4 linked regions of the Homo sapiens genome follow. The protein of the gene in region 1 interacts with the protein of each later gene in a biochemical or structural test. Each region holds a gene or a part of one and is shown in the gene's direction. Other genes may lie near its edges.

The links.
Region 2: the proteins of PTGES3 (region 1) and HSP90AB1 form a complex in vitro, tested with the Homo sapiens proteins (3 studies listed by BioGRID and IntAct, with this or other methods).
Region 3: the proteins of PTGES3 (region 1) and TERT form a complex in vitro, tested with the Homo sapiens proteins (2 studies listed by BioGRID).
Region 4: the proteins of PTGES3 (region 1) and HSP90AA1 form a complex in vitro, tested with the Homo sapiens proteins (10 studies listed by BioGRID).

Annotation. Positions count from the first base shown.
Region 1 is NC_000012.12:56,678,277-56,685,294, reverse strand, and holds part of PTGES3 (prostaglandin E synthase 3), read left to right. Parts: intron 1-7,018. UniProt on the Homo sapiens protein: Cytosolic prostaglandin synthase that catalyzes the oxidoreduction of prostaglandin endoperoxide H2 (PGH2) to prostaglandin E2 (PGE2).
Region 2 is NC_000006.12:44,242,594-44,250,113, forward strand, and holds the start of HSP90AB1 (heat shock protein HSP 90-beta), read left to right. Parts: upstream 1-4,507; 5' UTR 4,508-4,602; intron 4,603-5,349; exon of another isoform or gene 5,350-5,486; intron 5,487-6,023; exon of another isoform or gene 6,024-6,036; coding exon 6,037-6,183; intron 6,184-6,783; coding exon 6,784-6,990; intron 6,991-7,081; coding exon 7,082-7,241; intron 7,242-7,427; coding exon 7,428-7,520. UniProt on the Homo sapiens protein: Molecular chaperone that promotes the maturation, structural maintenance and proper regulation of specific target proteins involved for instance in cell cycle control and signal transduction. Undergoes a functional cycle linked to its ATPase activity.
Region 3 is NC_000005.10:1,292,067-1,299,565, reverse strand, and holds the start of TERT (telomerase reverse transcriptase), read left to right. Parts: upstream 1-4,497; 5' UTR 4,498-4,576; coding exon 4,577-4,795; intron 4,796-4,899; coding exon 4,900-6,253; intron 6,254-7,499. UniProt on the Homo sapiens protein: Telomerase is a ribonucleoprotein enzyme essential for the replication of chromosome termini in most eukaryotes. Active in progenitor and cancer cells. Inactive, or very low activity, in normal somatic cells.
Region 4 is NC_000014.9:102,084,044-102,091,777, reverse strand, and holds the start of HSP90AA1 (heat shock protein HSP 90-alpha), read left to right. Parts: upstream 1-4,733; 5' UTR 4,734-4,792; intron 4,793-5,399; coding exon 5,400-5,561; intron 5,562-5,653; coding exon 5,654-6,020; intron 6,021-6,346; coding exon 6,347-6,480; intron 6,481-6,779; coding exon 6,780-7,097; intron 7,098-7,213; coding exon 7,214-7,379; intron 7,380-7,734. UniProt on the Homo sapiens protein: Molecular chaperone that promotes the maturation, structural maintenance and proper regulation of specific target proteins involved for instance in cell cycle control and signal transduction.

The DNA of each region.
Region 1 (7,018 bases):
AAAAATAATATATGCCGTTTAGTAAATTCTTCAGGGACTCTTAACAAGCTAAAGACTTAAATTTTAAAATGAAAGTTGTAAGTCAGTTATTTGAAGTGGAAGAAGCCTTTAATGGGTCGTCATCCAGTCTTAAGAATCTGGCTGATAAGGGTTTATTTTGTTGATAACTTGTTTTAAAAGTGTTTTTTTTGGAGACAGGGTCTTCCTCTGTCACCCAGGCTGGAGTGCAGCTGCAACCTCTACCTCCCGGGCTCAAGCGATCCTCCTTGCCTCAGTCTCCCGAGTAGCTGGGACTGCAGGCAAGCACCACCATGCCTGGCTAATAAATTTTTTTTAAGCTCTGGGGAGAGAGAGATTTATGCTGGGTGTCTTAAAGGCTTGGGAGTGTGTTTTCTCATTTGATTTACTCATTTGCTCTTCAGCGATTTCGTAGTTACATTTCTTTAAATCCTAAGTTATAAAAGTTTGTCTCATAATTTACATAAAAGCTCTTAATTTCGGACCTATCTTGGAGAAGGCTGGGATTTTTAGGACCTTCCCCCACTTAAGATTTTCCGCTTAACTAACCTTGCCAGAGGGTGCTACTTCGCATTTTCTTTTTGAATCATTGTCGTTCGACCGATTAAAAATAGAGAAAAAGTAAAATGTTTTATTTATTTTAGAGATGTTGGAAGTTGTTGTTTTTCCTGTCTAATGTCTTGTATATAATTAGGAAGTTGTCCAGAAACTTGCGTCTCTGATTTTGGTAAAAATCTTCCTGTCATTCAGCTGTGTAGGAACGAATCTCCAAAATAAAATTGTCCATCTTTAGCCTGCAAAACAAATTGTCGTAGTGAACATATGCTATATTGTTAATTGCTATAACTTGAGTATCTGATGGTGGGTGGCCTTTGTTCAGTATTGATTTCCTGTGCACTGTAACCTGGCAACTGGATTTTTAATTTTTCTTCCTGTGTTCAGTTAGACTTTAACTAGAAGGCAGTAGAAACTGGAAGTGAAAAATTTCTTGAGTGCAAGCCAGTGTTTTATTGCTAAATTAAGATTCTCCTGACTAATTGGATTTTCTCGGTTTAAAAATCTACAAGCTATCATTTTTGGGTCTTGTGGTTAGCGATTGTCTCTTTTCAGGGGAAAAAAAACCTTTGTAAATATCAACTGTTCAGAACCAATCTCGCTGTTAAACACCTAAGATCATATTTACGTGAGCTCAAAAAATACTCTAGTGAGCATATTTTGCTATGGAAATAGTGTATTGAACTTTTTACTATTTACTGTGTGGATCGGCAATTACAGTTTTGGGGTTTTTTTTGTTTGTTTTTTTTGTTTTTTTTTTTTTTGAGACGGAGTTTCGCTGTCGCCCAGGCTGGAGTGCAGTGGCGCGATCTCGGCTCACTGCAGGCTCCGCCCCCTGGGGTTCACGCCATTCTCTTGCCTCAGCCTCCCGAGTAGCTGGGACTACAGGCACCCGCCACCTCGCCCGGCTAATTTTTTGTATTTTTAGTAGAGACGGGGTTTCACCGTGTTAGCCAGAATGGTCTCGATCTCCTGATCTCGTGATCCGCCTGCCTCGGCCTCCCAAAGTGCTGGGATTACAGGCGTGAGCCACCGCGCCCGGCCCATAGTTTTGGTTTTTGTTTGTTTTTTTGAGATGGAGTCTGGCTCTGTCGCCCAGGCTGGAGTGAACTGGTGCGATCTCGGCTCACTGCAACCTCCGCCTTCTGGGTTGAAGTAGTTCTCTGCCTCAGCTTCCTGAGTAGCTGGGATTCCAGGTGCCTGCCGCCATGCCTGGCTAATTTTTTTTTTTTTTTTTTTTTTTTTTTTGAGACAGAGTTTCTCTCTTGTTGCCCAGGCTGAAGTGCAATGTCACGGTCTCGGCTCACCGCAACCTCCGCCTCCTGTGTTCAAGCAATTCTCCTGCCTCAGCCTCCCGGGTAGCTGCGATCACAGGCATGCGCCACCATGCCCGGCTAATTAGTAGAGATGGGGTTTCTCCATGTTGGTCAGGCTGGTCTCAAACTCCCGACTTCAGGTGATCACCCGCCTCGGCCTCAGAAAGTGCTGGGATTACAGGTGTGAGCCACTGCATCTGGCCTAATTTTATATATTTTTAGTAGCGATGGGGTTTCACCATCTTGGCCAGGCTGGTCTTGAACTCCTGACCTCATGATCCACGCGCCTCAGACTCCTAGAGTGCTGGGATTACAGGCGTGAGCTACTGCCGCAGCCGGCAATGATAGATTCTAGAATGAGGCTGCTTCCCTGCTTCCTCGGTATACCTTTGTAAATTTTTTTTTTTTTCTTGAGGCGGAGTCTCATTCTGTTGCCCAGACTGCAGTGCAGTGGCGCGATCTTGGCTCACTGCAACCTCTGCCTCCTAGGTTCAAGCGATTCTCCTCTCTCAGACTCCCAAGTAGCTGGGACTACAGGCATGTGCCGCTATGCCCAGCTAATTTTTTGTATTTTAGTAGAAATGGGGTTTCGCCGTTTTGCTCAGGCAATCATCCCACCTTGGCCTTCCAAAGTGCTAGGATTACAGGTGTGAGCCACCACGCCCGGCCTTTTTTTTTTTTTTTCTTTTAAATGGAGACGGGATCTTACCGTGTTGTCCAGGTTGGTCTTGAACTCCTGGGCTCAAGTGATCTTCCTCCCAAAGTCCTGGGTTTACAGGTGTGAGCTGCTGCACCCGATCCTTGGTATACCTTTGAACTTGCGGTTTTCCGGGAATATTTCTTCTTTTCTGAGACACTGTCTCACTACTTTGCCCAGGCTGGAGTGCAGTGGTGTCATCACTGTCTGCAGCCTCAAACTTGGGATCAAGCCATCCTCCTGCCTTGGTCCCCCAGTAGTTGGGACTACAGGTGTGCACCACCACACCCAGCTAACTTAATTTTTTTTAGAGACGGGGGTCTCACAATGTTGCTAAGGCTTATCTTGTCTCAAACTCTTGGGCTCAAGCAGTCTTCCCTCCTCAGCCTCCCAGAGTGCTGGAATTGGAGCCACTTGCTCATTGATATTTTAACTTCACCTTCAGCATATGCTCTTTTCCCATTTTGTATTCTGAAGCTGAATAAAATGTGCTGTTGGGGCTTTTCTGTGCCTCAGGTGCTCATTCACATGAAGCCACACTTCATTTGATAGTGCCAATGTCAGCTGGGCACGGTGGCTCACACATGTAATCCCAGCACTTTTGGAGGCCAAGGCGGGCAGGTCACTTGTGGTCAGGAGTTCCAGACTAGCCTGGCCAACATGGTGAAACCCTGTCTCTACTAAAAATACAAAAATTAGCTGGGCACCGTGGCGGGTGCCTGTAATCCCAGCTACTTGGGAGGCTGAGGCAGGAGAATGGTTTGAACCCAGGAGGCGAGGAGGTTGCAGTGAGCCGAGAATGCGCCACTGCTGCACTCCAGCCTGGGTTACAGAGTGAGACTCTTTTTTTTTGAGATGGAGTCTTGCTCTGTCGCCCAGGCTGGAGTGCAATGGTGTGATTTCGGCTCACTGCAAGCTCTGCCTCCTGGGTGTTCAAGCGATTCTCCTGCCTCAGCCCCCTGAGTACCTGGGATTACAGGCGCATGCCACCGTACCTGGCTAATTTTTGTATTTTTTTTTTTAAGTAGAGATGGGGTTTCGCCATGTTGGTCAGGCTGGTCTCAAATTCCTGACCTCAGGAGATCTGCCGCCTTGGCCTCCCAAAGTGCTGGGATTACAGGCATGAGCCACTGCACCCGGCTGATTCTTTTTTTTTTTTTTTTTTTTTTTTGAGATGGAGTCTCACTCTGTTGCCCAGGCTGGAGTGCAGTGGCGTGATCTTTGCTCACTGCAGGCTCCGCCTCCCGGGTTCACGCCATTCTCCTGCCTCAGCCTCCCGAGTAGCTGGGACTACAGGCTCCCGCCACCTCATCCGGCTAATTTTTTGTATTTTTAGTAGAGACGGGGTTTCACTCTGTTAGCCAGGAAGGTCTGGATCTCCTGACCTCGTGATCCGCCCTCCTCGGCCTCCCAAAGTGTTGGGATTACAGGCATGAGCCACCGCGCCCGGCCTGATTCTTAAAATACCCATTTACACAGCACTAATTTGAGAATCATAAAGGGGCTGTCCGAAATAGGATTGGGGCTGTCTGAAATAGGATTGGGGTTCACGAGATCAAGCCATTGCATTCCAGTCTGGACAACAAGAGCAAAAACTCTGTCCAAACAAAAAAACAAAACACAACTACAAATGGGGGGACCAGGTATGGTGACTCACACCTGTAATCCCAGCACTTTGGGAGGCCGGGGTGGATGCATCACCTGAGTTCAGAAGTTTGAGACCAGCCTGGGCAACAAGGTAAGACCCCATCTCTACAAAAAATAACCTGGGTGTGTGGTAGCATGTATCTGTGGTTCCATCCACCATGGAGACTGAGGTGGGAGGATCACCTGAGCCTGCGAAGTCAAGGCTGTGTGAGCTGAGATCACGCCACAGCACTCCAGCCTGAATGACAAAGCAAGAACTGGTCTCAAAAAAAAAAAAAAACTTTTAAAAAACAAAAACTACAAGTGGGTGGAGGGTGCCCTACACTTATCCTGAATCAGGAATAAACACATATGTATTCCCTCATTTGAAAGGAGAACTGGGCCAGGTGTGGTGGCTCACGCCTGTTAATCCCAGCACTTTGGGAGGCTGAAGCTGGAGGATCACCTGAGGTCAGGAGTTGGAGACCAGCCTGACCAGCGTGGTGAAACCCCATCTCTACTTAAAAAAAATTGCTAGGCCTGACGGCACATGCCTGTAACCCCAGCTACTTGGGAGGCTGAGGCAGGATAGTCGCTTGAACCTGGGAAGCAGGGGTTGCAGAGAGGCAAGATGACGCCGTTGCAGTCCAATCAGGGCAGCAAGAGTGAAACTCTGTCCCCCCAAAAAAAAAAAAAGAAAGAAAATTGGGTTGGGTGCAGTGACTCACACCTATAATCCCACCACTTTGGGGGACTGAGGTGGGCAGATCACTTGAGGCCGAGTTCGAGACCAGCCTGGCCAATATTGCAAAACCTCATCTCTACTAAAAATGTGAAAACATTAGCTAGGTGTGGTGACGCATGCCTGTAGTTCCATCTACTCATTGTGAGGCTGAGGCAGGAGGATCACCTGAACCCCGGAAGTGAAGATTGCAGTGAGCTGTGATCGCGCCATTGCACTCCAGCCTGGGCGACAGCAAGACTTTCTCAAAAAAAAAAAAAAACCAAAACCAATAAAACAAAAATGGAAAACCAGCGTTTATGAAATCTCCTTTTGCCTTCCATGAGGATTACACCATCTCTTTTTCTCCTATTAACATATGGAGAGGGCTGGGTGCGGTGGCTCATGCCTGTAATCCTAGCACTTTGGGAAGCCAAGGCAGGTGGATCACTTGAGGTCAGGAGTTAAAGATCAGCCTTGCCAACATGATGACACCTCGTCTCTACTAAAAATACAAAAATTAGCCGGGCATGGTGGCAGGCACCTGTAATCCCAGCTACTCGGGAGGCTAAGGCAGAAGAATTGCTTCAACCTGGGAGGTGGAGGTTGCGGTGAGCCAAGATCATGCCACCGTTCTCCAGCCTGTCACTCCGGGGTGACAGAGTGAGACTCCGTCTAAAAAAACAAACCCAAAACATATGGAGAGGGGGCTGAGTTTAGCTTTAACTTTAGCTTCTAAACTAATTATACTGGATTTATCTCTAGCCTTTCTGCTAACACTGGCTAAACTCATAACCATTGTGTAAGACTGTTAATTCATTTTAATAGTAATATCCCTATAGATTCAAAACTTTCCACCTCTGCATACATTATGTAAATAATCTACTTAAAGCAAAACAACAATAAACCCCACAGGCGGACATTCCATGCTTTTTTTTTTTTTTTTTTTTTTTGAGGCAGAGTCTCACTCTGTTGCCCAGGCTGGGGTGCAGCAGGGGCACATCTCAGCTCACTGTAGCCTCCGCCTCCTGGGTTCAACCGATTCTCATGTCTCAGCCTCCCAAGTAGCTGGGATTACAGGTATGCTACCATGCCCAACTAATTTTTGTATCTTCAGTAGAGACAGGGTTTTGCCATGTTGGCATGGTTGGTTTGAACTCCTGGCCTCCAGTAATCTGCCAGCCTTGGGCTCCCAAAGTGCTGATATTAGATGTGAGCCATCACTCCTGGTCTCCATGCTTCTCTAAGTCAGGGTCTTGCTATGTGGCCCAGGCTGGAGTGCAGTGGTACAACCATGCTCACTATAACCTCAAACTCCTTGTCTCAAGCAATTCTCCCACCTCAGTGCCCCCCAGTTAGCTAGGACTACAAGCATGTGTCACCATGGCCAGCGATTTTTTTCTTTTTGGCAGAGATGTGGTCTCGCAGTGTTGCCCAGGCTGGTCTTGAACTCCTGGCCCAAAATGATACTCTCACCTTGGCCTCCTAAAGTGCTAGGATTCCAGGCATGAGGCACAGTGCCCAGCCTATTCCATGCTGATGTGACAAGCATTTCTAAGCTCAATAGAAGGGCTATATATACCAATCCAAGCAATTACATTTTGCATAACCTAAAATCCTCTATAGTCCTATCTAAAAGGTCTCTTTGTTAGCCTTGAAAGGACAGAGACCGTATTTGTTCCTAAATACCATAATTTTAATATGTTAGTATCTGGTGAGTTATAACTCTAATTTATAAAACACTGCAAGCACCCTTCACTATAAAAAATTGATGCACCAAAGAAGCTAGATGGAAACAGTTTGCTAGGAAAAGTGTCCCAGTTATTTTAATCCATTTGATAGTTTTACTATGTGCAATGCACATTTTATTATAAAAGACAAAACAGGCTGGGTATGGTGGCTCACTCCTGTAATTCCAGCACTTTGGGAGGCTGAGGCGGGTGGCTCACCTGAGGTCAGGAGTTCGAGACCAGCCTGGCCAACATGGTGAAAACCTGCCTCTACTAAAAAACAAAAATTAGCCAGGCTTGGTGGCGGGCGCCTGTAATCCCAGCTACTCAAGGGACTGAGGAAGGAGAACTGCTT
Region 2 (7,520 bases), on another chromosome or scaffold:
GAGGGTGTCAGTTCAGGGTATTCCCTCAGGAATTCAGAGAGCTAAGGCTCGTGGAACTGGGAAGGCCCAGAAAGTAACGGGACACACCTGGCAGGCACTGAGCTTAAGAGGCTGCTTGTTCTAGGGGTTCAGGGTCCACAGCTACTCTCCATGCTCATATCTCTGATGTCCTGTTACCCTCAGTTGTTTTATTCGTTCACTGAGCTTTATTTAACTCCCCTCCGTGGCCTCTGTGAACCCTAGAGACTCTGTCCAGGCTGAGTCTCTGTGCTCCCTGCAAGACTTTGCTGAGCTTTATGTAGCTTAGGGGTCTGCAAACGTTTTCTGTAAAAGGCAAGAGAGTAAATGTCTTAGGGTTTGCAAGCGTTATGGTCTCTGTCACACCTATCGATTTTGACTTTATGTTACAGAAGCAGTCAAAGACAAGGGCTACGTTTCAACAAAACTTCATTAAAATTGGCCAGGCGCAGTGGCTCACGACTGTAATCTCAGCACTTTGGGAGTCTGAGGCGGGCAGATCACCTGAAGTCAGGAGTTCGAAACCAGCCTGGCCGACATGGTGAAACCCGGTCTCTACCAAAAATACAAAAATTAGCCGGGCGTGGTGGCGGGCGCCTGTAATCCCAGCTACCTGGGATGCTCAGGCAGGAAAATCGCTTGAACCCGGGAAGTGGAGGTCGCAGTATGCTGAGATTCTGCCATTGCACCCCAGCCTGGGAGACGAGTGAGACTCCGTCTAAAAAAAAAAAAAAAAAACTTCATGAAAACAGAAATTCAAATTTCATATAATTTTCCCATGTCAAAATAATATCTTTCTTTTGATTTTTTTTTCAACCATTATGAAGTGTAAAAACCCTTCTTAGCCCACAGGCCATTCAAAAAACAAGCAGCAGGCCCACCAGCTGCAGACCTTGGGTTGTTAATCCCTGCTTTAGCTGGCCACCCTCCGACAGCAGAAGGTTGGGCTGGGCCTAGGAGGTTTCATGGAGGAATAAAAGGGATCTGGGGAACATCAGTGGTTCCAAGGCTGGGAATAAGGCTTCGGACGGTGTAGTTTTTTTTTGTTTTGTTTTTGTTTTCTGAGACGGAATCTTGCTCTTATTGCCCAGGCTGGAGTGCAATAGCGCGATCATGGCTCACCGCAACCTCCACCTCCTGGGTTCAAGCGATTCTCCTGCCTCAGCCTCCTGAGTAGCTGGAATTACAGGCATGTGCCACCACACCCAGCTAATTTTGTATTTTTAGTAGAGACGGGGTTTCTCCATGTTGGTCAGGCTGGTCTCAAAACTCCTGACCTCAGGTGATCCGCCCGCCTTGGCCTCCCAAAGGTCTGGGATTACAGGCGTGAGCCACCCGTGCCCAGTCTGGAAGACATAGTTTTAAGCCTGTCTTTTATAACCTTCACTTCTCTCACTCTTAAGATCAGGACTTCTTACCAGTGGCATTTGCAGCCCTCTGCGACCTAACCCCCATCTGCAGGGCTACTTTCAACTCCTTGTGCTTCCCTTTGGGGTTCCTGAGCTATGGTTCCTCTAATGGGGCTCTGTTCCTTTCCATGCTTTCCATGTCATGGCCTGGCTAGGCATGGTCCTAAGACTGCTCCCTTTCCCAAGCTGAGCTGAGGGCCTCTGCGGCTTCTCCCATCCTCCTATGGTTCACACTTGGCTGCTGCAGCCTCCAGTGGGTTAAGGGCTCCCAGTCCTGTGTATGCATCTCTGCATCCCCAGGATCTCCACACAGTGGAGGCTTAGTGAGTGTCAATGAGTGGAAAACGATGGAGCTTGTGGACACAGGTAGGCGGTCTCCTGAAAGGCTTCCTGGAAGAGAAAGTGGAATTTCTTTTTTTTTTTTCTTTTTTGAGACAGAGTCTCACTGTGTCGCTCAGGCTGGAGTGCAGTGGCGTGATCTCGGCTCACGGCAACCTCTGCCGCCCGGGTTCAAGTGATTCTCCTGCTTCAGCCTCCCAAGTAGCGGGGACTATAGGCGCGCTACCACGCCCGGCTAATTTTTGTATTTTTAGTAGAGACAAGGTTTCACCAGAGTGGCCAGGCTGGTCTTGAACTCCTGACCTGGTGATCCGCTGGACTCGGCCTCCCAAAGTGCTGGAATTACAGGCATGAGCCACCGCGCCCAGCCCCCTTTTTTTTTTTTTTTTTTTTTTGAGACGGAGTTTCTCTTTTGTTGCCCAGGCTGGAGTGCAATGGCATGGTCTCAGCTCACTGCAGCCTCTGCCTCCAGAGTTCAAGCAATCTTCCTGCCTCAGCCTCCCAAGTAGCTGGGATTACAGGCATGTGCCACCACGCCCAGCTAATTTTTAGTAGAGACGAGGTTTTTCACCATGTTGGCCAGGCTGGTTGTGAACTACTGACCTCGGGTGATCCACCCACCTCGGCCTTCCAAAGTGCTGGGATTACAGGTATGAGCCACTGTGCCCAGCAGAGAAAGTGGAATTTCTATGCTGGTGTAACATTTGAGATTTTCCCATTTAGAAAGTCTTCAGGAAGCCGTCGAGTCTTGACACAGAAAGGATCCAGCTCAGGGGAAGCCCATCCACAGGAGTGATTCCTGCTTTGGATTTAGGTCCTAGGGGTGAGATCACATCCCTGCTCCATTTCTGGAGCAGAAAGGGAGCTAGTGCAGCAAGGACTCTGAGTAGACGGGCCTTGGGAGTCACTGAAGCCACTTCCCTGTTGACAGAATGTGCACACTGACTTTCATCCGCTCACAGGAGAGTGAGAGTTTGTGAATGCTCTCTGTGAACTGGGGAGCAGATTTTTAATGAGCTCTGCTTAGAAGGAGAGGACACGTTAAGGGATCACGCTCCCACTGGTTTGCGGTTTTGGTCAGGAATAGAGCACCCAACGCCCCTTCTTATAGACTTCTCCCAGCCATAGGCTTTTTGCAGACCATAATGAAAGGGAGAAAGGATATCCAATCGGGATGGTGATGGCAGGCATGGCGAAGTGGACAGGGACAAAGAAGAGGAAAGCAAGGGACACCCTTTGTTCTTTGGTATTCAACACATGAACAAAACTTGTTAACGAATCGTAGACTGGGTAACAACAGGGCTGGTGAGGGAGGACGATGTGGGTGGCTGTGGGGAAACTCTTCCCAAGCATCCCAGGGGTGGGCCAGGAAGGGGAGCAGATGGACATCTACAGGGCACAGAGCAGGGAGTGGCTATTCTCTCCTGGAGGGGTTGTGGGTCCAGCAGGCTTTCGGATGAGGCCTTGGAAAGGCAAGGACAGCTTGCCAACTGGAGGGCAGGCAAAACGGCTGAGCCAGGCCAGACACGGCAGCTCACTGGCCAGGGGCATGGCCTAGGGGCTCTGGTGCCAAGGCTGAAGGGGAACAACTTGGCCAGCCGCTCTGTGGCCGGCATCGTCACGCGGCCTCCAAGAGCTCCGGCTGCCCTGCACTGGTTCCCAGAGACTCCCTCCTTCCCAGGTCCAAATGGCTGCAGGAGCGAAGTGGGCGGAAAAAAAGCGAACCAGCTTGAGAAAGGGCTTGACGTGCCTGCGTAGGGAGGGCGCATGTCCCCGTGCTCCGTGTACGTGGCGGCCGCAGGGGCTAGAGGGGGGTCCCCCCCGCAGGTACTCCACTCTCAGTCTGCAAAAGTGTACGCCCGCAGAGCCGCCCCAGGTGCCTGGGTGTTGTGTGATTGACGCGGGGAAGGAGGGGTCAGCCGATCCCTCCCCAACCCTCCATCCCATCCCTGAGGATTGGGCTGGTACCCGCGTCTCTCGGACAGGTCAGAGCGGGTCGCCGGGTGGGGTCGCTGCAAAAACCCTGCCCCGGCCGCAGCCGGAGAGGCGGAGCCTCGCGGGGAGGGGGCGGGACCGCCGAGACAGGCCTGGAAACTGCTGGAAATGCCGCAGTGCCGCCGCCGCGCCTTCCGCCGCATGTCGGCAAAGAGTCCCCGCCAGCCCCGGCCGGCGCCCTCCCCCTACGCTGAGCTGCCCCTCAGCGCGAACCCTCCGCCCTTCCTCTACTCCTGCGAGAGTCGGGATCTGGGGCTACCCAAGGTTGGGTCCCGAATGCCAGTCCCTCTGTCGGGACGCGAGATGTGTAGGGCAGATGCTAGGAAGAAGATTGGGTCTGGGAGCGGTGGTCCGCGTGGTTAGCTGCCTCCGCTCTTTTTCGGTGTCCCCCCCAGTCCCGCCCTTGGGTGTGGGGACGCCTGCCCCACAAGTGTTTAGGGAGGTCAGTGGGTTCCTCGCCCGTAGAGACACCGTTTATGCCAAATGAGCACTCCTCATCCCCGCTCTTGATGGAGTCATGTCCTAGACGTGAAACTATGGGGCTGTGATCACAAGCAAATGTGTGGGCGGATCCGTTGCTTGGGTTCTTCCCCGCCCCCTCTTTTTTTCGGACCATGACGTCAAGGTGGGCTGGTGGCGGCAGGTGCGGGGTTGACAATCATACTCCTTTAAGGCGGAGGGATCTACAGGAGGGCGGCTGTACTGTGCTTCGCCTTATATAGGGCGACTTGGGGCACGCAGTAGCTCTCTCGAGTCACTCCGGCGCAGTGTTGGGACTGTCTGGGTATCGGAAAGCAAGCCTACGTTGCTCACTATTACGTATAATCCTTTTCTTTTCAAGGTAAGGCTGAGATCTCCGCTAGGCTTCTTTCCCTTTAGTGCTGTATTCGTGTTGTTTTTGTTTTTTTCTGTCCTTTAGGGAGCCTTAGTCTAGATGTCGGGGTGGCTTGTGGATAACGCTCTGGATTTTTATAGGGTGAGGGTAGTGGTGGGTGAGGTTTTTTGAGTCCTCCTCGGTTTTCTCTAGTGTGTTTGGGGGGTGGGGCTTTCTCTCGGCGCCTGCTGGCCGTAGCGAGGTGGGCTGTGGGGTTGGGGCAGTGGGCGGCTGGCAGCTGCACGTGGTGGCCGCGCGGCCCGGGACGCTGCCATTTTTGCCCCTCCACTTCCGGACGCGGCTACGGGGCGTCGGAGGGGGACCGCAGGGTGGCGGGGGTGCCCGCTCGGGTGACTCAGCACGGCCTTGTGGGACTGGCTTTGTCACCTCTCTTATCGGACGCGTTGTTAAAGCCTTCTTGGGTGCTTTGTTTCTGTGAGGGAGGGTTGACGGTGTGGGAAGAGAGCTTTCGGTCTCCAGCACCCGATACTCCCTCCTTCCAGATCTTTCTTGCAGTCCCGGTGGAGGAGGGGCGGGGAGGGGAGCAGGTTCTGGAAGATTCATGGGCTCCTTCCTCCGCCCTTCCTCGAGAGCTGAGATTGTTCTGGAAGCTTCTGGATTCTGGCGCCCCGCCCCAGTGCCCGGATGCTGGGGCGAGGGAGGGTGCACTGCGGCGCCCCCTCCTCGCGTGGTCCTGGCCGACGCATGTCCGGCAGTGACGAGTGTCGGCCTGGTGGCTACGGCCACCATCTTTCTTGGGTTTGGTCCTGTTCTGTAATTTTGTGCTGTGAAAGGGTCGTGGTGGAGCTTTTGGCTTAAGAATTCTTTGTCCGGATTTAATTGCTCCTCCGGTGGGTATCGTATGGATCCCAGGTTATTCCTCCCTGCCCTATGGGGCAGGAGTGTCCCGCCCTTGGACTGGTCTTAGGAACTGACACCTCAGGGGGAGCAGTTTAAAGTTAGTGCCATTTTTATCTTAAACTAGTCACTTTGATCTCCCCCAAATAAAGAACTGTAGGTAGTGATTTTCACATTTAAATTTGTGTAAGGATTACTTGGGATCTCTAGATACCTGGGTTGGACCAACATTATGATTTTTCTGCCATACTACCAGATGATGCTGAGGCTGCTGGTCACCATTCTTTAAGTAGGTGGGTTCTGTGACATTTGGTTGAAGAATATTTAGCTTATTTTCTTTTTCCTTCTGAATTTTCAGGCCTCCCACTTAGTGTGTAGTCTGAGATCTTTAAGAGAATGCATTTTTAGTCTTGGGAAGGGATAGTACTCCGGTTAAACCAGTCTGAACTCACTGTCTAAGGTCCTAACAAATGATATGACCTTTAGGATTTTTAAACATGGGGCCTTAGTGTTCTTTTGTAATTAATGAGATTTTTATTTTAGATGCCTGAGGAAGTGCACCATGGAGAGGAGGAGGTGGAGACTTTTGCCTTTCAGGCAGAAATTGCCCAACTCATGTCCCTCATCATCAATACCTTCTATTCCAACAAGGAGATTTTCCTTCGGGAGTTGATCTCTAATGCTTCTGATGTAGGTGCTCTGGTTTCCACATTTGGCATGGTTTTTTTTTTTGATACTCTAGAAGGAGGGGAAAGGAGTGGTTTGGCCTTTGTTGGGGACTACTATTGAAGGGGGTAAACTTGCAGCTATTCCAAAAAGATGGGTTTTACTCTGGCCATCTTGAACTTGGAAGGGACTATGTCCAGAATAAGTGGGCTCATGGAACTAACTGGTTCTAAAGCCTCAAGATAGGGGGCAATCAGATTTGAGGCTGAGAGAGGTAAACCAAGATTTTCTTTGAAGATACGGGCTTTAAGAAAGCAAAAGTGGCTGAGCGTGTTGGCTCACACCTGTAATGCCAAGGCAGGAGGATCACTTGAGCCTAGGATTTCGAGGGCAGCCTGGGCAACCGCGAGACCTTGTCTCTGCAAAAAATTAAATATTAGTTGGGCACGGTGGCATGTGCCTGTAGTCCCAGCTACTTGGGAAGCTGGGGTTGGGAGGATGGCTCGAACCTGGGAGGTCAAGGCTGCAGTGAGCTGTCATCCTTGCCACTGCACTGTAGCTTGGGCAACAGAGCAAGAGTCTGTCTTGGAAAGAGCAAAAGTAAGTTGCTGTTTGTATTTCCAGGCCTTGGACAAGATTCGCTATGAGAGCCTGACAGACCCTTCGAAGTTGGACAGTGGTAAAGAGCTGAAAATTGACATCATCCCCAACCCTCAGGAACGTACCCTGACTTTGGTAGACACAGGCATTGGCATGACCAAAGCTGATCTCATAAATAATTTGGGAACCATTGCCAAGTCTGGTACTAAAGCATTCATGGAGGCTCTTCAGGTATTGCAGTTCTGTAGGCATTCATACTTATCTGTGTTCTTTGGTTTTTTGCTTCTTTAAAACTTGTGATTGACTTTAAACTTGTTGGCAGGCTGGTGCAGACATCTCCATGATTGGGCAGTTTGGTGTTGGCTTTTATTCTGCCTACTTGGTGGCAGAGAAAGTGGTTGTGATCACAAAGCACAACGATGATGAACAGTATGCTTGGGAGTCTTCTGCTGGAGGTTCCTTCACTGTGCGTGCTGACCATGGTAAGTTAGCTTTTCTGTTACAAGGTAGTTGGGTTAGGATTTTCTGGGCTCACACCAGTAGCAGAAATTTTGGGCATCCTGTCTGTAAAGCAGTTCTTCACAGCAGTTCTGCTGATACTTACTAATTGCTGGTCTCAACTGCATATACTTTTTACCCTGTTACACGCTTGTAATTGACTCTTCTAGGTGAGCCCATTGGCAGGGGTACCAAAGTGATCCTCCATCTTAAAGAAGATCAGACAGAGTACCTAGAAGAGAGGCGGGTCAAAGAAGTAGTGA
Region 3 (7,499 bases), on another chromosome or scaffold:
CCCACTGTGTCTTGTCTCAGCGACGTAGCTCGCACGGTTCCTCCTCACATGGGGTGTCTGTCTCCTTCCCCAACACTCACATGCGTTGAAGGGAGGAGATTCTGCGCCTCCCAGACTGGCTCCTCTGAGCCTGAACCTGGCTCGTGGCCCCCGATGCAGGTTCCTGGCGTCCGGCTGCACGCTGACCTCCATTTCCAGGCGCTCCCCGTCTCCTGTCATCTGCCGGGGCCTGCCGGTGTGTTCTTCTGTTTCTGTGCTCCTTTCCACGTCCAGCTGCGTGTGTCTCTGCCCGCTAGGGTCTGGGGGTTTTTATAGGCATAGGACGGGGGCGTGGTGGGCCAGGGCGCTCTTGGGAAATGCAACATTTGGGTGTGAAAGTAGGAGTGCCTGTCCTCACCTAGGTCCACGGGCACAGGCCTGGGGATGGAGCCCCCGCCAGGGACCCGCCCTTCTCTGCCCAGCACTTTTCTGCCCCCCTCCCTCTGGAACACAGAGTGGCAGTTTCCACAAGCACTAAGCATCCTCTTCCCAAAAGACCCAGCATTGGCACCCCTGGACATTTGCCCCACAGCCCTGGGAATTCACGTGACTACGCACATCATGTACACACTCCCGTCCACGACCGACCCCCGCTGTTTTATTTTAATAGCTACAAAGCAGGGAAATCCCTGCTAAAATGTCCTTTAACAAACTGGTTAAACAAACGGGTCCATCCGCACGGTGGACAGTTCCTCACAGTGAAGAGGAACATGCCGTTTATAAAGCCTGCAGGCATCTCAAGGGAATTACGCTGAGTCAAAACTGCCACCTCCATGGGATACGTACGCAACATGCTCAAAAAGAAAGAATTTCACCCCATGGCAGGGGAGTGGTTAGGGGGGTTAAGGACGGTGGGGGCGGCAGCTGGGGGCTACTGCACGCACCTTTTACTAAAGCCAGTTTCCTGGTTCTGATGGTATTGGCTCAGTTATGGGAGACTAACCATAGGGGAGTGGGGATGGGGGAACCCGGAGGCTGTGCCATCTTTGCCATGCCCGAGTGTCCTGGGCAGGATAATGCTCTAGAGATGCCCACGTCCTGATTCCCCCAAACCTGTGGACAGAACCCGCCCGGCCCCAGGGCCTTTGCAGGTGTGATCTCCGTGAGGACCCTGAGGTCTGGGATCCTTCGGGACTACCTGCAGGCCCGAAAAGTAATCCAGGGGTTCTGGGAAGAGGCGGGCAGGAGGGTCAGAGGGGGGCAGCCTCAGGACGATGGAGGCAGTCAGTCTGAGGCTGAAAAGGGAGGGAGGGCCTCGAGCCCAGGCCTGCAAGCGCCTCCAGAAGCTGGAAAAAGCGGGGAAGGGACCCTCCACGGAGCCTGCAGCAGGAAGGCACGGCTGGCCCTTAGCCCACCAGGGCCCATCGTGGACCTCCGGCCTCCGTGCCATAGGAGGGCACTCGCGCTGCCCTTCTAGCATGAAGTGTGTGGGGATTTGCAGAAGCAACAGGAAACCCATGCACTGTGAATCTAGGATTATTTCAAAACAAAGGTTTACAGAAACATCCAAGGACAGGGCTGAAGTGCCTCCGGGCAAGGGCAGGGCAGGCACGAGTGATTTTATTTAGCTATTTTATTTTATTTACTTACTTTCTGAGACAGAGTTATGCTCTTGTTGCCCAGGCTGGAGTGCAGCGGCATGATCTTGGCTCACTGCAACCTCCGTCTCCTGGGTTCAAGCAATTCTCGTGCCTCAGCCTCCCAAGTAGCTGGGATTTCAGGCATGCACCACCACACCCGGCTAATTTTGTATTTTTAGTAGAGATGGGCTTTCACCATGTTGGTCAGGCTGATCTCAAAATCCTGACCTCAGGTGATCCGCCCACCTCAGCCTCCCAAAGTGCTGGGATTACAGGCATGAGCCACTGCACCTGGCCTATTTAACCATTTTAAAACTTCCCTGGGCTCAAGTCACACCCACTGGTAAGGAGTTCATGGAGTTCAATTTCCCCTTTACTCAGGAGTTACCCTCCTTTGATATTTTCTGTAATTCTTCGTAGACTGGGGATACACCGTCTCTTGACATATTCACAGTTTCTGTGACCACCTGTTATCCCATGGGACCCACTGCAGGGGCAGCTGGGAGGCTGCAGGCTTCAGGTCCCAGTGGGGTTGCCATCTGCCAGTAGAAACCTGATGTAGAATCAGGGCGCGAGTGTGGACACTGTCCTGAATCTCAATGTCTCAGTGTGTGCTGAAACATGTAGAAATTAAAGTCCATCCCTCCTACTCTACTGGGATTGAGCCCCTTCCCTATCCCCCCCCAGGGGCAGAGGAGTTCCTCTCACTCCTGTGGAGGAAGGAATGATACTTTGTTATTTTTCACTGCTGGTACTGAATCCACTGTTTCATTTGTTGGTTTGTTTGTTTTGTTTTGAGAGGCAGTTTCACTCTTGTTGCTCAGGCTGGAGGGAGTGCAATGGCGCGATCTTGGCTTACTGCAGCCTCTGCCTCCCAGGTTCAAGTGATTCTCCTGCTTCCGCCTCCCATTTGGCTGGGATTACAGGCACCCGCCACCATGCCCAGCTAATTTTTTGTATTTTTAGTAGAGACGGGGGTGGGGGTGGGGTTCACCATGTTGGCCAGGCTGGTCTCGAACTTCTGACCTCAGATGATCCACCTGCCTCTGCCTCCTAAAGTGCTGGGATTACAGGTGTGAGCCACCATGCCCAGCTCAGAATTTACTCTGTTTAGAAACATCTGGGTCTGAGGTAGGAAGCTCACCCCACTCAAGTGTTGTGGTGTTTTAAGCCAATGATAGAATTTTTTTATTGTTGTTAGAACACTCTTGATGTTTTACACTGTGATGACTAAGACATCATCAGCTTTTCAAAGACACACTAACTGCACCCATAATACTGGGGTGTCTTCTGGGTATCAGCGATCTTCATTGAATGCCGGGAGGCGTTTCCTCGCCATGCACATGGTGTTAATTACTCCAGCATAATCTTCTGCTTCCATTTCTTCTCTTCCCTCTTTTAAAATTGTGTTTTCTATGTTGGCTTCTCTGCAGAGAACCAGTGTAAGCTACAACTTAACTTTTGTTGGAACAAATTTTCCAAACCGCCCCTTTGCCCTAGTGGCAGAGACAATTCACAAACACAGCCCTTTAAAAAGGCTTAGGGATCACTAAGGGGATTTCTAGAAGAGCGACCTGTAATCCTAAGTATTTACAAGACGAGGCTAACCTCCAGCGAGCGTGACAGCCCAGGGAGGGTGCGAGGCCTGTTCAAATGCTAGCTCCATAAATAAAGCAATTTCCTCCGGCAGTTTCTGAAAGTAGGAAAGGTTACATTTAAGGTTGCGTTTGTTAGCATTTCAGTGTTTGCCGACCTCAGCTACAGCATCCCTGCAAGGCCTCGGGAGACCCAGAAGTTTCTCGCCCCTTAGATCCAAACTTGAGCAACCCGGAGTCTGGATTCCTGGGAAGTCCTCAGCTGTCCTGCGGTTGTGCCGGGGCCCCAGGTCTGGAGGGGACCAGTGGCCGTGTGGCTTCTACTGCTGGGCTGGAAGTCGGGCCTCCTAGCTCTGCAGTCCGAGGCTTGGAGCCAGGTGCCTGGACCCCGAGGTTGCCCTCCACCCTGTGCGGGCGGGATGTGACCAGATGTTGGCCTCATCTGCCAGACAGAGTGCCGGGGCCCAGGGTCAAGGCCGTTGTGGCTGGTGTGAGGCGCCCGGTGCGCGGCCAGCAGGAGCGCCTGGCTCCATTTCCCACCCTTTCTCGACGGGACCGCCCCGGTGGGTGATTAACAGATTTGGGGTGGTTTGCTCATGGTGGGGACCCCTCGCCGCCTGAGAACCTGCAAAGAGAAATGACGGGCCTGTGTCAAGGAGCCCAAGTCGCGGGGAAGTGTTGCAGGGAGGCACTCCGGGAGGTCCCGCGTGCCCGTCCAGGGAGCAATGCGTCCTCGGGTTCGTCCCCAGCCGCGTCTACGCGCCTCCGTCCTCCCCTTCACGTCCGGCATTCGTGGTGCCCGGAGCCCGACGCCCCGCGTCCGGACCTGGAGGCAGCCCTGGGTCTCCGGATCAGGCCAGCGGCCAAAGGGTCGCCGCACGCACCTGTTCCCAGGGCCTCCACATCATGGCCCCTCCCTCGGGTTACCCCACAGCCTAGGCCGATTCGACCTCTCTCCGCTGGGGCCCTCGCTGGCGTCCCTGCACCCTGGGAGCGCGAGCGGCGCGCGGGCGGGGAAGCGCGGCCCAGACCCCCGGGTCCGCCCGGAGCAGCTGCGCTGTCGGGGCCAGGCCGGGCTCCCAGTGGATTCGCGGGCACAGACGCCCAGGACCGCGCTTCCCACGTGGCGGAGGGACTGGGGACCCGGGCACCCGTCCTGCCCCTTCACCTTCCAGCTCCGCCTCCTCCGCGCGGACCCCGCCCCGTCCCGACCCCTCCCGGGTCCCCGGCCCAGCCCCCTCCGGGCCCTCCCAGCCCCTCCCCTTCCTTTCCGCGGCCCCGCCCTCTCCTCGCGGCGCGAGTTTCAGGCAGCGCTGCGTCCTGCTGCGCACGTGGGAAGCCCTGGCCCCGGCCACCCCCGCGATGCCGCGCGCTCCCCGCTGCCGAGCCGTGCGCTCCCTGCTGCGCAGCCACTACCGCGAGGTGCTGCCGCTGGCCACGTTCGTGCGGCGCCTGGGGCCCCAGGGCTGGCGGCTGGTGCAGCGCGGGGACCCGGCGGCTTTCCGCGCGCTGGTGGCCCAGTGCCTGGTGTGCGTGCCCTGGGACGCACGGCCGCCCCCCGCCGCCCCCTCCTTCCGCCAGGTGGGCCTCCCCGGGGTCGGCGTCCGGCTGGGGTTGAGGGCGGCCGGGGGGAACCAGCGACATGCGGAGAGCAGCGCAGGCGACTCAGGGCGCTTCCCCCGCAGGTGTCCTGCCTGAAGGAGCTGGTGGCCCGAGTGCTGCAGAGGCTGTGCGAGCGCGGCGCGAAGAACGTGCTGGCCTTCGGCTTCGCGCTGCTGGACGGGGCCCGCGGGGGCCCCCCCGAGGCCTTCACCACCAGCGTGCGCAGCTACCTGCCCAACACGGTGACCGACGCACTGCGGGGGAGCGGGGCGTGGGGGCTGCTGCTGCGCCGCGTGGGCGACGACGTGCTGGTTCACCTGCTGGCACGCTGCGCGCTCTTTGTGCTGGTGGCTCCCAGCTGCGCCTACCAGGTGTGCGGGCCGCCGCTGTACCAGCTCGGCGCTGCCACTCAGGCCCGGCCCCCGCCACACGCTAGTGGACCCCGAAGGCGTCTGGGATGCGAACGGGCCTGGAACCATAGCGTCAGGGAGGCCGGGGTCCCCCTGGGCCTGCCAGCCCCGGGTGCGAGGAGGCGCGGGGGCAGTGCCAGCCGAAGTCTGCCGTTGCCCAAGAGGCCCAGGCGTGGCGCTGCCCCTGAGCCGGAGCGGACGCCCGTTGGGCAGGGGTCCTGGGCCCACCCGGGCAGGACGCGTGGACCGAGTGACCGTGGTTTCTGTGTGGTGTCACCTGCCAGACCCGCCGAAGAAGCCACCTCTTTGGAGGGTGCGCTCTCTGGCACGCGCCACTCCCACCCATCCGTGGGCCGCCAGCACCACGCGGGCCCCCCATCCACATCGCGGCCACCACGTCCCTGGGACACGCCTTGTCCCCCGGTGTACGCCGAGACCAAGCACTTCCTCTACTCCTCAGGCGACAAGGAGCAGCTGCGGCCCTCCTTCCTACTCAGCTCTCTGAGGCCCAGCCTGACTGGCGCTCGGAGGCTCGTGGAGACCATCTTTCTGGGTTCCAGGCCCTGGATGCCAGGGACTCCCCGCAGGTTGCCCCGCCTGCCCCAGCGCTACTGGCAAATGCGGCCCCTGTTTCTGGAGCTGCTTGGGAACCACGCGCAGTGCCCCTACGGGGTGCTCCTCAAGACGCACTGCCCGCTGCGAGCTGCGGTCACCCCAGCAGCCGGTGTCTGTGCCCGGGAGAAGCCCCAGGGCTCTGTGGCGGCCCCCGAGGAGGAGGACACAGACCCCCGTCGCCTGGTGCAGCTGCTCCGCCAGCACAGCAGCCCCTGGCAGGTGTACGGCTTCGTGCGGGCCTGCCTGCGCCGGCTGGTGCCCCCAGGCCTCTGGGGCTCCAGGCACAACGAACGCCGCTTCCTCAGGAACACCAAGAAGTTCATCTCCCTGGGGAAGCATGCCAAGCTCTCGCTGCAGGAGCTGACGTGGAAGATGAGCGTGCGGGACTGCGCTTGGCTGCGCAGGAGCCCAGGTGAGGAGGTGGTGGCCGTCGAGGGCCCAGGCCCCAGAGCTGAATGCAGTAGGGGCTCAGAAAAGGGGGCAGGCAGAGCCCTGGTCCTCCTGTCTCCATCGTCACGTGGGCACACGTGGCTTTTCGCTCAGGACGTCGAGTGGACACGGTGATCTCTGCCTCTGCTCTCCCTCCTGTCCAGTTTGCATAAACTTACGAGGTTCACCTTCACGTTTTGATGGACACGCGGTTTCCAGGCGCCGAGGCCAGAGCAGTGAACAGAGGAGGCTGGGCGCGGCAGTGGAGCCGGGTTGCCGGCAATGGGGAGAAGTGTCTGGAAGCACAGACGCTCTGGCGAGGGTGCCTGCAGGTTACCTATAATCCTCTTCGCAATTTCAAGGGTGGGAATGAGAGGTGGGGACGAGAACCCCCTCTTCCTGGGGGTGGGAGGTAAGGGTTTTGCAGGTGCACGTGGTCAGCCAATATGCAGGTTTGTGTTTAAGATTTAATTGTGTGTTGACGGCCAGGTGCGGTGGCTCACGCCGGTAATCCCAGCACTTTGGGAAGCTGAGGCAGGTGGATCACCTGAGGTCAGGAGTTTGAGACCAGCCTGACCAACATGGTGAAACCCTATCTGTACTAAAAATACAAAAATTAGCTGGGCATGGTGGTGTGTGCCTGTAATCCCAGCTACTTGGGAGGCTGAGGCAGGAGAATCACTTGAACCCAGGAGGCGGAGGCTGCAGTGAGCTGAGATTGTGCCATTGTACTCCAGCCTGGGCGACAAGAGTGAAACTCTGTCTTTAAAAAAAAAAAGTGTTCGTTGATTGTGCCAGGACAGGGTAGAGGGAGGGAGATAAGACTGTTCTCCAGCACAGATCCTGGTCCCATCTTTAGGTATGAAGAGGGCCACATGGGAGCAGAGGACAGCAGATGGCTCCACCTGCTGAGGAAGGGACAGTGTTTGTGGGTGTTCAGGGGATGGTGCTGCTGGGCCCTGCCGTGTCCCCACCCTGTTTTTCTGGATTTGATGTTGAGGAACCTCCGCTCCAGCCCCCTTTTGGCTCCCAGTGCTCCCAGGCCCTACCGTGGCAGCTAGAAGAAGTCCCGATTTCACCCCCTCCCCACAAACTCCCAAGACATGTAAGACTTCCGGCCATGCAGACAAGGAGGGTGACCTTCTTGGGGCTCTTTTTTTTCTTTTTTTCTTTTTATGGTGGCAAAAGTCATATAACATGAGATTGGCACTCCTAACACCGTTTTCTGT
Region 4 (7,734 bases), on another chromosome or scaffold:
GCACATGCCTGTGGTCCCAGCTCCTCAGGAGGCTGAGGCAGAAGGATCACTTGCGCCCAGGAGGCTGATGGTGTAGTGAACCATGTTTGTGCCACTGTGCTCCAGCCTGGGCAAGAGAGTGAGACTGTCTCTTTTTTTGTTTGTTTGTTTTTTTGAGACAGTCTCACTCTGTTGCCCAGGTTGGAGTGCAGTGGTGCAATCTCGGCTCACTGCAGCCTCTGCCTCCTGAGTTCAAGCAATTGTCCTGCCTCAGCCTCCCGAGTAGCTGGGACTACAGGTGTGTGCTGCCACACCCAGCTAAATTTTTTTGTATTTTTTGTAGAGATGGGGTTTCACCATGTTGTCCAGGCTGGTCACAAACTTCTGACCTCAATTGATTGGTCTGCCTCAGCCTCCCAAAGTGCTGGGATTACAGGTGTGAGCCATTGCACCCAGCTGAGACTGTTTATCAGGATAAAACAAAAATCATGAGCCAGACCTGGGTGTAACTGCCCTGGAGGCCCTTGCTCTGGGTGACCCTGAGTAAAGGACTTACCTCTCCTAAGCCTCAGTGTTCTCAACTGTACAGTGGGACCAAAGACACCTACTTCAGAGTCGAGAGGACTAAGAAACTGCATGCAAAGTAGCTAGCCTGCTGCCTGGCAAGCAAGTGAGGGGGCATAAATTGCTATGGGGTAGGCTATCACCTGAGCCATCTCCAAAACCAGAAGTGGCTCATTTAAGCTTCATAACCACTCTATGAAGAAGACATGTTCATGTCTATGCTACAGATACTGAACTGGATGCATAGAAAGGGTAAGTGACTTGCCCTGGGTCACACAGGCAGTGGCTGAGCTAAGATCTGAATCCAGGCCACCTGGATCCAGAATCCATGCTCCAGCTTTACTGAGGGACACTGAAAGCTTTCAAATAGAGGAGGAAAATGGTCAGATTGCCCTAACAGCAACATCACTGTGGGACGAGGTCAACAAATATTTAGGATGCTAAATCTGCAAGGCTTGGTGATCTATTAGAAATACGTTGTTGAGGCCAGGCACTGTGGCTCACGCCTCTAATCCCAGCACTTTGGGAGGCCAAGGCGGGCGGATCACAAGGTCAAGAGATCAAGACCATCCTGGCTAACACGGTGAAACCCCCTCTCTACTTAAAGAATACAAAAAATTAGCCAGGTGTGGTGGCGGGCGCCTGTAGTCCCAGCTACTAGGGAGGCTGAAGTAGGAGAATGGCGTGAACCCGGGAGGCGGAGCTTGTAACAAGCCAAGATCGCACCACTGCACTCCAGCCTGGGCGACAGAGCAAGACTCCGTCTCAAAAAAAAAAAAAGAAATATGTTGTTGAGGAAGGAAGAGGAGGAGGCTGGACAGAAAAGGCGGTGAAGCAGGAGTGGAAGAACTTGGGGTTGGAGGGCTAGAGGAAGCAGAGGAGCACATGTGGTCTGTACTCTGAAGGAGAGGGCACCACATTCTGAGAACCTCTCCATGACAGGACACCTGGCCTGGTGGGAGGCAGGTGGGGTTCCTAAGAAAATGTGTGAGCAGAAGATCCATTAAAAATTAATTAGAGAAGAACAGAGGGAATGGTGTTCCAGGCAGAGGGAACAGCATTTGCACAGCCTCGTGGGGGCGAGTCATGGGGAGTGCGCCAGACACAGAAATAGGAGCACAGTGGGAACTGGCGCTGTATGGGGAGGCAGCAGCGACCTGCAGGGCCTCACAGGCCTAAAGAGCTCTGTCTTCCTCCTAGAAGGATGGGAAGTCAGCTAGAATTTGCAGAGGGTGGGGAGGAGGGAATAGATAGGGCCAGGTCTGTGTTCTCAAAGCTCACCCTGGCTACAGTTTGGAGACAGACCAGACCATATGCAGGGAGCAGTTAGGTGGTTATGGAGGCCTTCCAGGTGAGCTGACGGTTGTGTGGAAGCGGGGGATGAAGGTGGAGGGAAGTGGCTGGGTTCAAGAGGTACTTAGGAGGCAGAAGTGGCAGGACTCAGTGCCAGATCCGTTGTGGGGATGCTTGGGGTTCTTTAAGGTGGGATAGTCAGTGACCTGGCTAACGAGCCCTCAAAGAGGGCTGGAGACAGGGGGGAAGCTCATGAGGCTCAGCATCCAGGTCTGGAGCTGAGTCCTGGCCGGGCTCTTCCGTGAGTCATCTGCACACAAGTTCTATTAGTGAGAGTGCTGGACAAGATTTCCTGGGGGCAAAGACCCACCTCCAAGAGCTCCGTGATGTGCCAGGGAGAGGGGCATGAGTCTGAGAAGAGAGAAGGAACAGCCAGGGGCTGGCGTGTTGATGGTAGAAACCATTACAGAGTTCGCACCTGGTGGGTAACTGTGGAATGTCACCTGGAGACAGGACAAAAATGTCCTGTTTATTAACCGAGGGGGGAGAGCTGGAAAGACAAGAAGTTGTGGAAGGAAGAAGGGACATTAAAGATGGGGCCTGACGGGAAACAGTGGTTCCCAGTGATGCCCAGACCCAGGGAGGGGCTTTGGAGCAGGTTCACTGGAGAAATGGGGGTAAATGAAGGTCCCCAAAACAAAGGACAAAGAATGTCAGAGCTGGCCGGGCGCCGTGGCTCACGCCTGTAATCCCAGCACTTTGGGAGGCCGAGGCGGGCGGATCACCTGAGGTCACGGGTTCGAGACCAGCCTGGCCAACATGGTGAAACCCCGTCTCTACTAAAAATACAAAAATTAGCCGGGCGTAGTGGTGGGTGCCTGTAATCCCAGCTACTCGGGAGGCTAAGGCAGGAGAATCGCTTGAACCCAGGAGGTAGAGGTTGCAGTGAGCAGGTTGCAGTGAGCAGAGATTGTGCCATTGCCCTCGAGCCTGGGGGACCAAGAGTGAGACTTTGTCTAAAAAAAAAAAAAAAAGAAAAGAAAAAAAAGAACGTCAGAGTTAGGGCCCTGGATGGCTCCTCTATATCTCAAACCCCCTGGGCAATGGCAGAAACTGCGGTAGGAAAAGTTCCTACAAGTGAGGAGAGCGGGGACAGTGGCTGGTGGTGACAGGAAGGAAACAGGCAAAGGCGGCAGTCGCCAGGGAAGACCTTGCGCCCCTTCAGCGACCCGCTCACCGCTCTTCCTGCTTCCGGATTCCTCCCCGCCAGTCCAGGCTGCAGCTGTAGGAAAGCCTGGGCCGGGGGCGCGCCCCCAGGCTGCGCAACAGCTACCACAGGACCAGGCACACACCCGGTCACCACCGCTGGGGCCCGCGCCACGTGGCTGCTAGTTTCCTTCCACTTCCCCCGCTTTGTAATGCCAGGCAAGACGCTTTATGTTGATTTCACACGCTCTTAAGGGGGTCCCAGGCCGCAGTCTGAAAACCCCTGCTCCTGAGCAAGTTGCGTTTCCCTAAAGACCAGGAAGCGGAGGTAGTTCCATCGTTTCTTTACACGGCAAGGAGCTTTCAGATTATTCCGAGGGCCTGGCTATGAGTCTAGGCAGGAGGCGGCCCAATCATGGGAGGCGCCAGAGACAAAGAGGAAGAGGACATGGACTAGGCAGGGAAGCCAGGTCGAAGGAACCCCAATGCCTCCAAGGTTCCCACAGCTGGCCTTGGCCAAAATATCCGAAAATTCCCATGTAGAAACTGGCTTTTCCAGCCTGGGCAACATGGTGAAACCCCGACTCTACAAATAAATACAAAAACTAGACAGGTGTGGTGTCCGCGCCTGTGGTCCTCTGCCCACGCTCGTCCCAGCTACTGGGAAAGCTGAGGCGGGAGGATCACCTGAGCCCGGGAGGGTCGAGGCTGCAGTGAGCCGAGATTCCGCCGCGGCACCCCAGCCTGGGCGACAAAGCGAGAGCCTGTCCAAAAAAAAAAAAAAGAAAAAAAAAAAAAAAAAAACCTTTTAGGGCAAGTTAATCACCAAAGTGTTAGATACTTAATTTGGAGACCGCAAATCGGTCGGCAAAACGATGGGCTTTTCAAAATCATGCCGGGTGTAGCTGGGTAAGCATGAATTTGTTCACCAAGTCCCCGATTCCCAAGCTAAGGGACCCTTAAGTATGAAGCACATGGCTTTCGGGGAACCCAAAAGTAGGGAGCGCTCCCGAGCCAGCGGTGGGTCTGGAGAATCCCCGAGCGCGCAGGCCGCGGGACAGCCTCCCCAGTGCGCAGCAGCCTGAGGCTAACAGCCCCCAGAGGGCAGAGCCCCGCGATCCCGGCGCCGCTTGCGGCTGGATTCTTTGGCAGCGGGCGCGGCGCCAGTCAGGACGACGGCTCCGGAAGTCTCCCGGGCGCGTGAGACCCGGGCCGCTCTCCGTCCACGCACGACCCTCCCTCCAGGCGCGCCTCCCACCCCGGCCCCGCGTTCCGCTCAGCCCGGGTGACCAACTACACCTCACTTCAAAGGCCCCCACGCCCGGGCGTGCCCTCCGCCCGCCCGCGGCAGGTGGGGGTGCAGGGCGGAGGGCGCGGGCGGCCCCAGAAGGCGCCCGGACCTTCCCGAGAATTCCGGGCCGCGCAGGCGCATTGAGGCCGGCGCGGGGGCGTGCGAGAGGCGCGCGGCGGCGATTGAGGGAAGGTTGCCCGGGCCGGGCCACGAGCAGGGCCTGCGCGCGCCCGCAGGAAGGCGCGGGGGCGGGGTGCCGCGGCAACGGCGCATGCGTAGGCGCGCGGCCGCGGCGGCGGCTGGGGAGGGTTCTTCCGGAAGGTTCGGGAGGCTTCTGGAAAAAGCGCCGCGCGCTGGGCGGGCCCGTCGCTATATAAGGCAGGCGCGGGGGTGGCGCGTCAGTTGCTTCAGCGTCCCGGTGTGGCTGTGCCGTTGGTCCTGTGCGGTCACTTAGCCAAGGTGACGGGTGGTTGTGGGGGCCTGTGGAGGTGGACTGGGGACCGGGACTGGGGGCGGCTGGCGCGGGGCGGAGGCTGTGGGGGCCGGACCAGATCCCTGAAGCAGCCAGGGCCGCGCTCCCGGGCGGCCGCGCTTTCTATTCCGGAGGCCTCGGGACCGCTGCGGTTTCCGCACCCCGCTTCAGGAATGGGCCGGGCGGCCGCGGGCTCCCCGAGGCTCTGCAGCAGCGCCAGAGCTGGCGCCGCACGCGAACAGAGCGGCCCCGCCGCGGGGGTCCCCCGCCCGGCCCCGCTGGGGGCGCAGGCGGAGGAGGCCGCCGTGGCGGAGCCGCAGCCCGCGCGGGAGGGCACCCGGGGTGTTCGTTGGGGACCGCGGCGGGGGACTGGGCCCGGGCCTGCGGCGGCCTCCCGGAAGCGCGCACACGCTCGTGGTAGTTGCCGCGCTCCGAAATGAGGTCATCCTTTGTCAGCCGCCCTTCTATTTTCGGTTTACTTAAACTTCGCAAATCTCCAATTCGGCTTTAAAAATATTTGGAGAACGCGATGGAATTTCGTGTTGCCTCTGTAGACGTCCTGCAAGGTTTTAAACCGGCGCGGTGTCGTTCCAGATGCCTGAGGAAACCCAGACCCAAGACCAACCGATGGAGGAGGAGGAGGTTGAGACGTTCGCCTTTCAGGCAGAAATTGCCCAGTTGATGTCATTGATCATCAATACTTTCTACTCGAACAAAGAGATCTTTCTGAGAGAGCTCATTTCAAATTCATCAGATGTAAGTCACTTATTAACCCAGAATCGGATTTTGGTTTCAGTGTGAACTTCTTGGGGGTGCTGTATGCTTAAATTAATATTTTTTGTTAACAGGCATTGGACAAAATCCGGTATGAAAGCTTGACAGATCCCAGTAAATTAGACTCTGGGAAAGAGCTGCATATTAACCTTATACCGAACAAACAAGATCGAACTCTCACTATTGTGGATACTGGAATTGGAATGACCAAGGCTGACTTGATCAATAACCTTGGTACTATCGCCAAGTCTGGGACCAAAGCGTTCATGGAAGCTTTGCAGGCTGGTGCAGATATCTCTATGATTGGCCAGTTCGGTGTTGGTTTTTATTCTGCTTATTTGGTTGCTGAGAAAGTAACTGTGATCACCAAACATAACGATGATGAGCAGTACGCTTGGGAGTCCTCAGCAGGGGGATCATTCACAGTGAGGACAGACACAGGTAGGCACCTGAACATTCACTGGTTAAGTGAGCGGTGGAAGGGTGGGGTGCTGCAACCCTTGGACCCCTGGGGATGCGGTGAAGCTTACAGAATTTGTGTTTGCCCAACGATCAGGAACAAGCTAGAGCACTTAATTAGTGTAATGGCATGACTTGGTGGGCGGTTCTTTTGGGCGAGGCACCTTGCCCAAAAGGTTCTGCTGTGGTGGCCTTTGCATCTGTAGTAACGGCAAACCTTGCTTTATAGACACGTTATAAGGGTGTTAGGCATGGCGTTGAGCACTAAATTGAATGTATTAAGTCAATTTTTCTTTCTTCTCTTGCAGGTGAACCTATGGGTCGTGGAACAAAAGTTATCCTACACCTGAAAGAAGACCAAACTGAGTACTTGGAGGAACGAAGAATAAAGGAGATTGTGAAGAAACATTCTCAGTTTATTGGATATCCCATTACTCTTTTTGTAAGTTTTTATGTAATTGCAGAGTGAATTTCTGTCTGTAGGTGATTGGGGTGACTGTACTACATCCTTAGTCCCTAGATCTGTTCAACTAGTCTGAAGCCTGGGGAACCTAAGCTCTACTACCTAACTCTGTAAAAGTTCCTCGGGCTATTAAGTGGATGTATCAAATATTGATGAAAAGCTGGGTGCTTCTCAAGTTGGCTAATTTAGACTTGGGCCTTAGGTTGAAAATAGTGGTGCAGCGCTGTCGCTTAGTTCTGGAGTGCAGCAGTGATGTGATTTCGTGTTTTCTTTTGAAGGTGGAGAAGGAACGTGATAAAGAAGTAAGCGATGATGAGGCTGAAGAAAAGGAAGACAAAGAAGAAGAAAAAGAAAAAGAAGAGAAAGAGTCGGAAGACAAACCTGAAATTGAAGATGTTGGTTCTGATGAGGAAGAAGAAAAGAAGGATGGTGACAAGAAGAAGAAGAAGAAGATTAAGGAAAAGTACATCGATCAAGAAGAGCTCAACAAAACAAAGCCCATCTGGACCAGAAATCCCGACGATATTACTAATGAGGAGTACGGAGAATTCTATAAGAGCTTGACCAATGACTGGGAAGATCACTTGGCAGTGAAGGTGAGTGACTGATGGGTGCTTCAAGCTTGTCCTTAGATTATCATCTTTCTCCACCACCCCAAATATCTTCTATAATGCATTGTTCATTGGTACTTAGTGTATCTGTTTTATTACAGCATTTTTCAGTTGAAGGACAGTTGGAATTCAGAGCCCTTCTATTTGTCCCACGACGTGCTCCTTTTGATCTGTTTGAAAACAGAAAGAAAAAGAACAACATCAAATTGTATGTACGCAGAGTTTTCATCATGGATAACTGTGAGGAGCTAATCCCTGAATATCTGAGTAAGTATAGATAGGAAAAATAATCACTGTCACTGATTAAAGAAGTACTTTCTGGGTGGGCATGGTGGCTCACACCTATAATCCTAGCACTTTGGGAGGCCGGGGTGGGCAGATCACTTGAGGTCAGGAGTTCAAGACCAGCCTGGGCAACATGGTGAAACCCCATCTCTACTAAATTACAAAAATTAGCCCCATGTAGTGGCAGGCTGAGGCATGAAAACAGCTTGAACCCCCCCGGGAGGCAGAGGTTGCAGTGAGTGGAGATTGCGCCACTGCCCTCCAGCCTGGGCAACAGAGTGAGACTGTCTCAAAAATACGTCCCATCATCTTCAGGTTATCTTTGATTTTGGGAGTT